2 linked regions of the Homo sapiens genome follow. The protein of the gene in region 1 purifies or fractionates together with the protein of each later gene. This does not show direct contact. Each region holds a gene or a part of one and is shown in the gene's direction. Other genes may lie near its edges.

The links. Proteins that work in one complex are often made in the same cells at the same time.
Region 2: the proteins of SPINK14 (region 1) and UBR3 purify together in Homo sapiens (affinity purification with mass spectrometry; one large-scale study listed by BioGRID and IntAct). This does not show direct contact.

The regions. Positions count from the first base shown.
Region 1 is NC_000005.10:148,167,040-148,170,792, forward strand, and holds the start of SPINK14 (serine protease inhibitor Kazal-type 14 precursor), read left to right. Parts: upstream 1-1,506; 5' UTR 1,507-1,528; intron 1,529-2,405; exon of another isoform or gene 2,406-2,621; 5' UTR 2,622-2,693; coding exon 2,694-2,760; intron 2,761-3,753. UniProt on the Homo sapiens protein: May be a serine protease inhibitor.
Region 2 is NC_000002.12:169,924,882-169,928,534, forward strand, and holds part of UBR3 (E3 ubiquitin-protein ligase UBR3), read left to right. Parts: intron 1-737; coding exon 738-866; intron 867-1,810; coding exon 1,811-1,863; intron 1,864-1,956; coding exon 1,957-2,090; intron 2,091-2,438; coding exon 2,439-2,524; intron 2,525-3,653. UniProt on the Homo sapiens protein: E3 ubiquitin-protein ligase which is a component of the N-end rule pathway. Does not bind to proteins bearing specific N-terminal residues that are destabilizing according to the N-end rule, leading to their ubiquitination and subsequent degradation.

The DNA.
Region 1 (3,753 bases):
GTGGCTTATCTGGCTCAGTTTTCAAAGCTGTTTAAGTGTTTGTTCAATTAAACCTCCAAAGAGCACTTGATGGAATGTGTGATTACCCAATAGCGCAAAATGGAAAATTCTGTGGTCCAGATAGAATAAATTACTTTCCAAGTTGACAAAACATTATAAATTGATGTTCTGATTCTGCGTTCAGAATCCTTTCTAAACAACAGGATGCATCTACCTTTCCAAACTGGGGAACAAATGATCTACTCAGGAAGATAGCAGGTTGTTTTCAAAATATTTCTTGTAAGTATGGAGCCCAGAATTACAAGTATGGAGCCCAGAAATGTGATGAAAACCACCACCTCTCTCATATTCTAGGTGACCTAAGTTCTTTCTGGAAGTTTTCAATGGGTTTATTTACAGGCATTTATTAAAATAAAATATTAAAAGACAAGTTAACTGAGGTAAATAAAAATCTGCCTATGCTAGCACTATTAATAACAATAAAAAATTGGCATCACCCTAATTGAGCAACAATTAAAGAATATTAGTATAATTAAAATCCACATATGTGATGGAATATGACACCAGGCATCTAAATTCATGTTCAATATATTTAGAGATCAAGAAAATGTAATAGTGCATTTCTAAGTGAAAAAACAATATATATTATAAAAGTTGAATATTGTAATAAAACATATGTACCTGTGTGATTATGTATATATATTTAAACTGGAAGAATATAATTTTATATATATTTAATAGGTACCTCTGAGTTGTAAGATTTCACACCTTTTTATTTCATTTGTATATTTTTTGTTTTATATATTTTATTTCATTTTGTATGTTTCTTTTTTTTCATATTTCTATTTGGCCATTTCTATTTGTATGTTTCTACTTGCTCCGCCTCCCTCTCTTTTTTGTATATTTCTATTTTATAAATTTTCTAAGTGAGCATATATTTTCTTTGTATAAGAAAAATAGCTTTTTACAGAAGGAATGGTAGAGGCCAGAAGTTCAGATAATAGGAGGACCTTAAGCTATAATAATATATCTTCCCTGTTAAAATGGCAAAGGCTCTGGGTTACTACAGGCACAAGGCTGGATCTACTGCAAATGGTATCCAAGGATCTCATCTGTCACTGCAACCTCCTGTACCAGCCTTTTCTTTATTAGATGTTTCCACACATGTTTTCATTCTGGTCCTAATACTGGTCCTGGTCTTGATACTAATTATTGTTGTGGAACATGTTATATTCTTTCTGCTTGCTCTTTCCTACTGTGGGATGTTTTCTCATGCTATTGCCTCTCTTGAATTGCCTGCTAATGGCTGCCCTTTCCAGTGATCTCTTCTTACCCTCCTCAGGTCTTCCCCTGCTGAGGTTTGATGCAATCTGAATGATGGATCTCCAGGGCCTGCTCAGTCCAGCACACAATGCCTCAGTGACTTTTCTGTCCTACGCAGCAGTTACTCTATTTCCTCCTGGGGCCCTAATACATGCTTCTTAGAAGGAGCACATTATATTCCTCTTCCTTTTCTCTTCTTTCTGAGGTGGGTCAGCTGTGACATGAGGGATGGAGAGAGTGGGCCTCTGTGTTTTGCTCTAGTTTTCTGGCTGCAGCTGAACTTGTACTGTTCCTGTTCCATTTCTGGAGGAAGCCAGGGAAAATATCAGGATGAGATGGGGGTGTGTTTAGCAAAACATGGTGTCCCAGATTGTGCCAGGAGTAGGCATGGTAGGCAACCTTTCATAGTGTACAAAGAACTTGCAATCATCCTGAGAGTAGAATACTCTGGCTACATTTTAATGTCTTAAGTAACACCTGCCACATCAGAGCACATCAGCAGAGTTTATATAAATTATCCATTGACATGTGTTGCAGACAGAGATAAAAGCCTAGAGAACATATGGAAGACCAGGCTACTTTTCTAGAATTAGGAATGGAGGAACAGTTAAATGTGGTCCTTGGTCAGGCCCTGGAAACTGCAGTTTCCATTCTCTGGGGTCAGAAATGTTGCTACAAGGAAAGTCCATCCCGAGGGAGGATTTGCTCTCTGACTTTTCCCTTTCTGTGTCTGGATTAAAATAGCTGTGGGACCCCAGTGAGATGGCAGATAATGATTTTTCTCCCTGTGAATGTCCTCAAAGAGTCTGGGATTCAACATCAGAAGATCCTTGGTATAGACAAGCATGCCTGAATCATCAGAAATCTTTGTCTTAATCCAAAGAGGTATTCTTTGCTTGACGAGCAAGTACAGATCCACTCCACTTATTGAGAAGTTCATGTTGTCTAGGGACCTCAATAGCCCCATCTTTTTTTTTGCATCCCCTCAAAAGATAAATTTAGGTGAAGCTTCAGGTAAGGAGTTGCTTTTTCATGACATGTAAAATGTTTTCCCACTAAAATAATACACTTATGCCCACAGAGTAACCTATGATTTACTTCTGAGTATTCAAAGATCTGTTACTGAGCTCTATACTTTTAATCAAGATAGTTATTCAAGGTTTAACTTTTTAAACATTTGTTTCTGAAGAAGAATGGAATAGGCTTTCCAAATACATAGTACTGAGGATACAATGGGTGGAGTAGAGATGGCTCTTCATTGTAAAAGTCATCTTAAATCCTGATTGTCTCTACTTTAGTGATTGTATTAGAGGGCAACAACCTGAGACAATATTTCAGAGCATCATTCCAAGGACACACCAGGAGGAAAAATGGCCAAATCTTTCCCAGTATTCTCACTTTTGTCCTTTATCTTGATACATTTGGTGTTATCTTCTGGTGAGTAATTTAGCTGGTCTTGGCCAGCAGTTGAAATTGATTTGTGGGCTTTTACATCATAATCTGAGAGAGAATGCTTTGAAATTGTTCTTTAACTGGGATGAATATATATATATGTGTATATATATATAAATTATCCATTGACGTGTTGCAGAGTGTATATATGTATATATATATTTATATATATACTCAGAGTATATGACAAAATGAAGGTCTCTGCCCATTGAATCAGTATTTTAGACTCTCTCTGTCTCTATATTTGTATATACACACATATACATATACATATATATACACACACATGTATATATATACTCTGAGTATACTCAGAGTATATATATGTATACACATACTCAGAGTATATATATATATATACACACACACACACACACACACATACATATATATATATATAGAGAGAGAGAGTCTAAAAGACTGATTCAATGGGCAGAGACCTTTGTTTTGCCATCTTTTGCATGCCGATTATGAGATTTAACTCATGAGGGCAAGGAGGCTTGGGTGACTCACTGAGGTAACATGTAAAAGTGACTAGCAATATAATATGCATACATGAGATCACATCTGGAAAATTTAGAGTGTTTGATTTGCTGTGTATTTGACTGGACCATTATCTTTTGTGCCCTCTTCTAGAGAAGAAATCATGTAGGGAGTCATAAAGAGGCCTAGCCTCAAGGGCTGCAGAGCTTGCTTTTTCACATATCTACCAAGAATTCCTGAGTATTACCCAGGTGTCTTTCATGCCTAAAAAAATATGATGATTGGGCCAAAAGATCACTTTAAAGTTACAGCATTGCTTATTTCTTTCATACATAGATTACCAGCTCTAAGTCCTCTCAAGTCCAAGCTAATTAGGAAAATTATTTAGTACACTGGACTGCCAGCCTTTATGAAACAGTGATGCATCTATATAGTCCCCTGCTGATATCAATTAGGAGTAAAAGATTTATTTCACATTTAAAAAAATGAATGAAT
Region 2 (3,653 bases), on another chromosome or scaffold:
AATTAGCTGGGCATGGTGGCGTGCACCTGTAGTCCCAGCTACTCGGGAGGCTGAGGCAAGAAGAATTGCTTGAACCTGGGAGACAGAGGTTGCAGTGGGCCAAGATCGCGCCACTGCACTCCAGTCTGGCGACAGAGTGAGATTCTGTTTCAAAAAAAACAAAAAAAATGATGACTGCCTAGTTTTAGTTGACACTGGACATAAATACATGAAGAATTAAATACTGATGTAGTGAGAACATTTATTCTAACCTCCAATATTTGGAAAATTAGCAGTATAGATTTAAGATTGAGTTAGGGTGAATTAAAGATGTAGAATGTATTCATTGACTTTGAACAGTTGGTTTTATTTTATGCTTATTCTAGTGTCTTTCTTTAAACATGTATATTAGGATTGTTGTTGTTGTTACTTAGGGTTTTCTTGAGGGAGAAATAGAGTGAAACATAAGCATTGATTTCTTATGAAAGATGTCAGTGAAAATCATCATAAATGTATCCAGAGGCCAACATGGAAAACCAACTCATTTGTTTAAACTCTAAAAAAGTGGCTATGTAAAAACATAATTATTGTTAAAAAAAATGTAAAAATGTATATTTCAACTGATTATCTTTAACATTGGACAGAATATCGGGCTTATACTATGATCACATCATTAAATATTTTGAAATGGTTATTTATAATATTTTGTAAAGATTGCATTTAGATAATTTATTCTTTGTCCAATTTACTTTTATTAGGCAAGTCTTGCAGAAATCCACAGCAATATGTGGGTAAGAAATGGTCTGCAAATCAAAGGACAAGCCATGACGTATGTCCAGTCTCATTTCTGTAATTCCATGATTGATCCTGACATTTACCTGTTACAGGTAAGCCAGCTAGATAATGCAGATATACTTTAGAAGTGTCTCATTTGTACCCAAGGGATTTTAATTTATAGAGGTGACTGCGTGATGACATGGAGAGGCCAATGCCATTGAAAGAATAATTTTTTACTTACATTTCCCAGGAGAAGAGGCATACCACCCAACACAAGGCTACAAGGAAAGCACCAGATTTTGGTCAAGAGGCAGAAAGGAGTGAGGGGAGAGCCTAGGCCAGAGCCTTTATTGGGGTTTCTGCAGGAAAGGCAAGGAAAGGCAAGGCAGGATTGGCTAATTTGAATAATTCCAGCAGGCTTTGAGGCATAGGGGCTGTATCTGGCTCTGCGGTACCTGGCCCTGGGTTGATTTAGGGGAGGGGAAATACTGGGTTGATGTGTGAGAGTTAGATAAAGACAGTGGTTGGCTTGCATGACAGGCATTTTCCCAAGTAAGTTGTTTAGTATGTTCAGGAATTAACTGGCTCTGGGAGGGACTATCTGTCTTCAGGTCTGTAATGCCCCTCAAGATGTCAAAACATCATAATATACAGAAAATAAAAATCATAGCCAGGCGTGGTGGCTCATGCCTGTTATCCCAGCACTCTGGGAGGCCAAGGCAGGCAGATCACTTGAGGCCAGGAGTTTGAGACCAGCCTGGCCAACACGTCGAAACCCTGTCTCTACTAAAAATACAAAAATTAGGCAGGTGTGGTGGCACACACCTGTAAATCCCAGCTACTCGGGAGACTGGGGGATGAGAATTGCTTGAGCCTGGGAGGCAGAGGTGGAGGTTGCAGTGAGCTGAGGTTGCACCAGCTTGGGTGAGAGTGAGACTCTGTCTCAAAAACAAAAAACAAAAAACAAAAAACAAAAAAAAGTATAGAAAAACATGATTAATAGAAGAAGGAAAACTGAATATTGAGAAATAAAGCATTTTGTTTTCTTTTAAAGGTTTGTGCTTCTAGACTTGACCCAGATTATTTTATTTCATCCGTCTTTGAAAGGTAGGCATAATTTTATTAAGACAGGTATTAGGAAGTGTCCAGTTAATTTTGTTTTAATTTATAAAAATATGTTTCAAATATTTCTTCTTGTAGATTTAAGGTAGTGGATTTGTTGACAATGGCATCACAACATCAAAATACAGTACTTGATGCAGAGCATGAGAGGTCGATGTTAGAAGGCGCTCTTACATTTCTTGTGATTCTTTTGAGTCTTCGTTTACATTTAGGTAAAACTCACTGATACTAATACTTATGCATTAACTGTTTTCCTCCCTTTCTCCCCCTCCCTGTGGTAGTAACTGGCTTAGGGAAAAAAGGAAAGGATGTAGATAAATGTAAACAATGTTTCAAACTCTTGATATGTTGTACTGTAGGTATACCTTTTAGAATATCCTTTGCTTAAGGGAACTGCAAACAGCAGTTAAACTGCAGTTATGTTTGGAGCATAGCTTCTTTACTCTTTAATTTGAAGCATCTTATATTTGGTAAAACAGCTTAGTAAAAAGTGTGGTAAGTTTTTTTCTTTATAATTTATGTATACTCAGATTTGTTAATTCCGTTTTTAATAATTTTAGGAATGTCTGATGATGAGATTCTCAGGGCCGAGATGGTAGCCCAGCTGTGTATGAATGACAGGACACACAGTTCATTGCTGGACCTCATATCCTTTTAAAATTTTACTTTCTGTTAGTTGCAGGATCTAAAATAAGTATTTTTTATGATTAATAGTTTATCAATTTTTTGATTAATTTTTTTTCAAAGTTGAAAAATAATATAGAAAAAGAAGAACACCAGTTGTGTGCTCAAGTATGTATTCAAGCCTGGTGACTGTTTTTTTTTTTTTTTAACCTCCTGTTATTACCTCTTGGGGAACTCTTCTTAGACTTTAGGGTAGATTTCAGGACTGAATGATGGCTTTGGCCACCCCAGCATTTAACCTCCTAGTGGACAGCATTACTGAACGTTTTATAAAAGGCAGCTAGGTCCATTTTGTCTGTGTAGCCAGGATGCAATTCATGGTTAACAGTTAAAGGTATACCTTACGATTATTATTACCAGGATTTTAAACATTTTGAGGGTTTTTCTGTAGAATTTGGTCTTAAAGGATTTTTGAATTTATAGATTTTTGTGTACAAACAGGGAACCTGTGGTTCTTTGTATAGGACTGAACATACAATGAGAATCTGATTATCTTTTTAAGTTAATGTTAATAAAATTTTACACAAAGATTATCAAGTAATTTTGTGATAAAAATTCTGGCCGAATTTAGTATTTGTATATCTTATGACTATGTTTGGAAGAATTGGCTAAACTTTTTATTTTGTGAAATAAGTCCTATTAGAATGCCTGTTTGACAACCTTGATTTTTGTAAGCAGCCTCAATTTGATACTGTCTGATGATTTCCTTCAGTCATTATGAACTATGTGTCAGTGCTATTATAGAGTAAAAACGATCTCTGTGTCTTTCAATTTTAAAGATTTATGTGCTTTAATGTGAGGAGAGAATCTTTTTGGTTTGCCTCTTTGCTTATATTTGCTTAGTATTTTTTTCTTTGGGGATGAAATTTTGTGTTTTTGGAAAAACAATCTTTGCTCATAAAAATCTTGGCTAATTTTTCACAAGTTCTTTCTGTTTTTTAAGGAAAAGTTATTTACAAAATGGTAAAAATGAAGACACATTTTTAAAAGTTTTTCTATCGTTTTCTGAAATTTGATAAATTTATTTCGGGGAAAATATACCTGGGAACTACTGCAGCATACAATTTATTAGTAGGCTCCTAGATTAAACA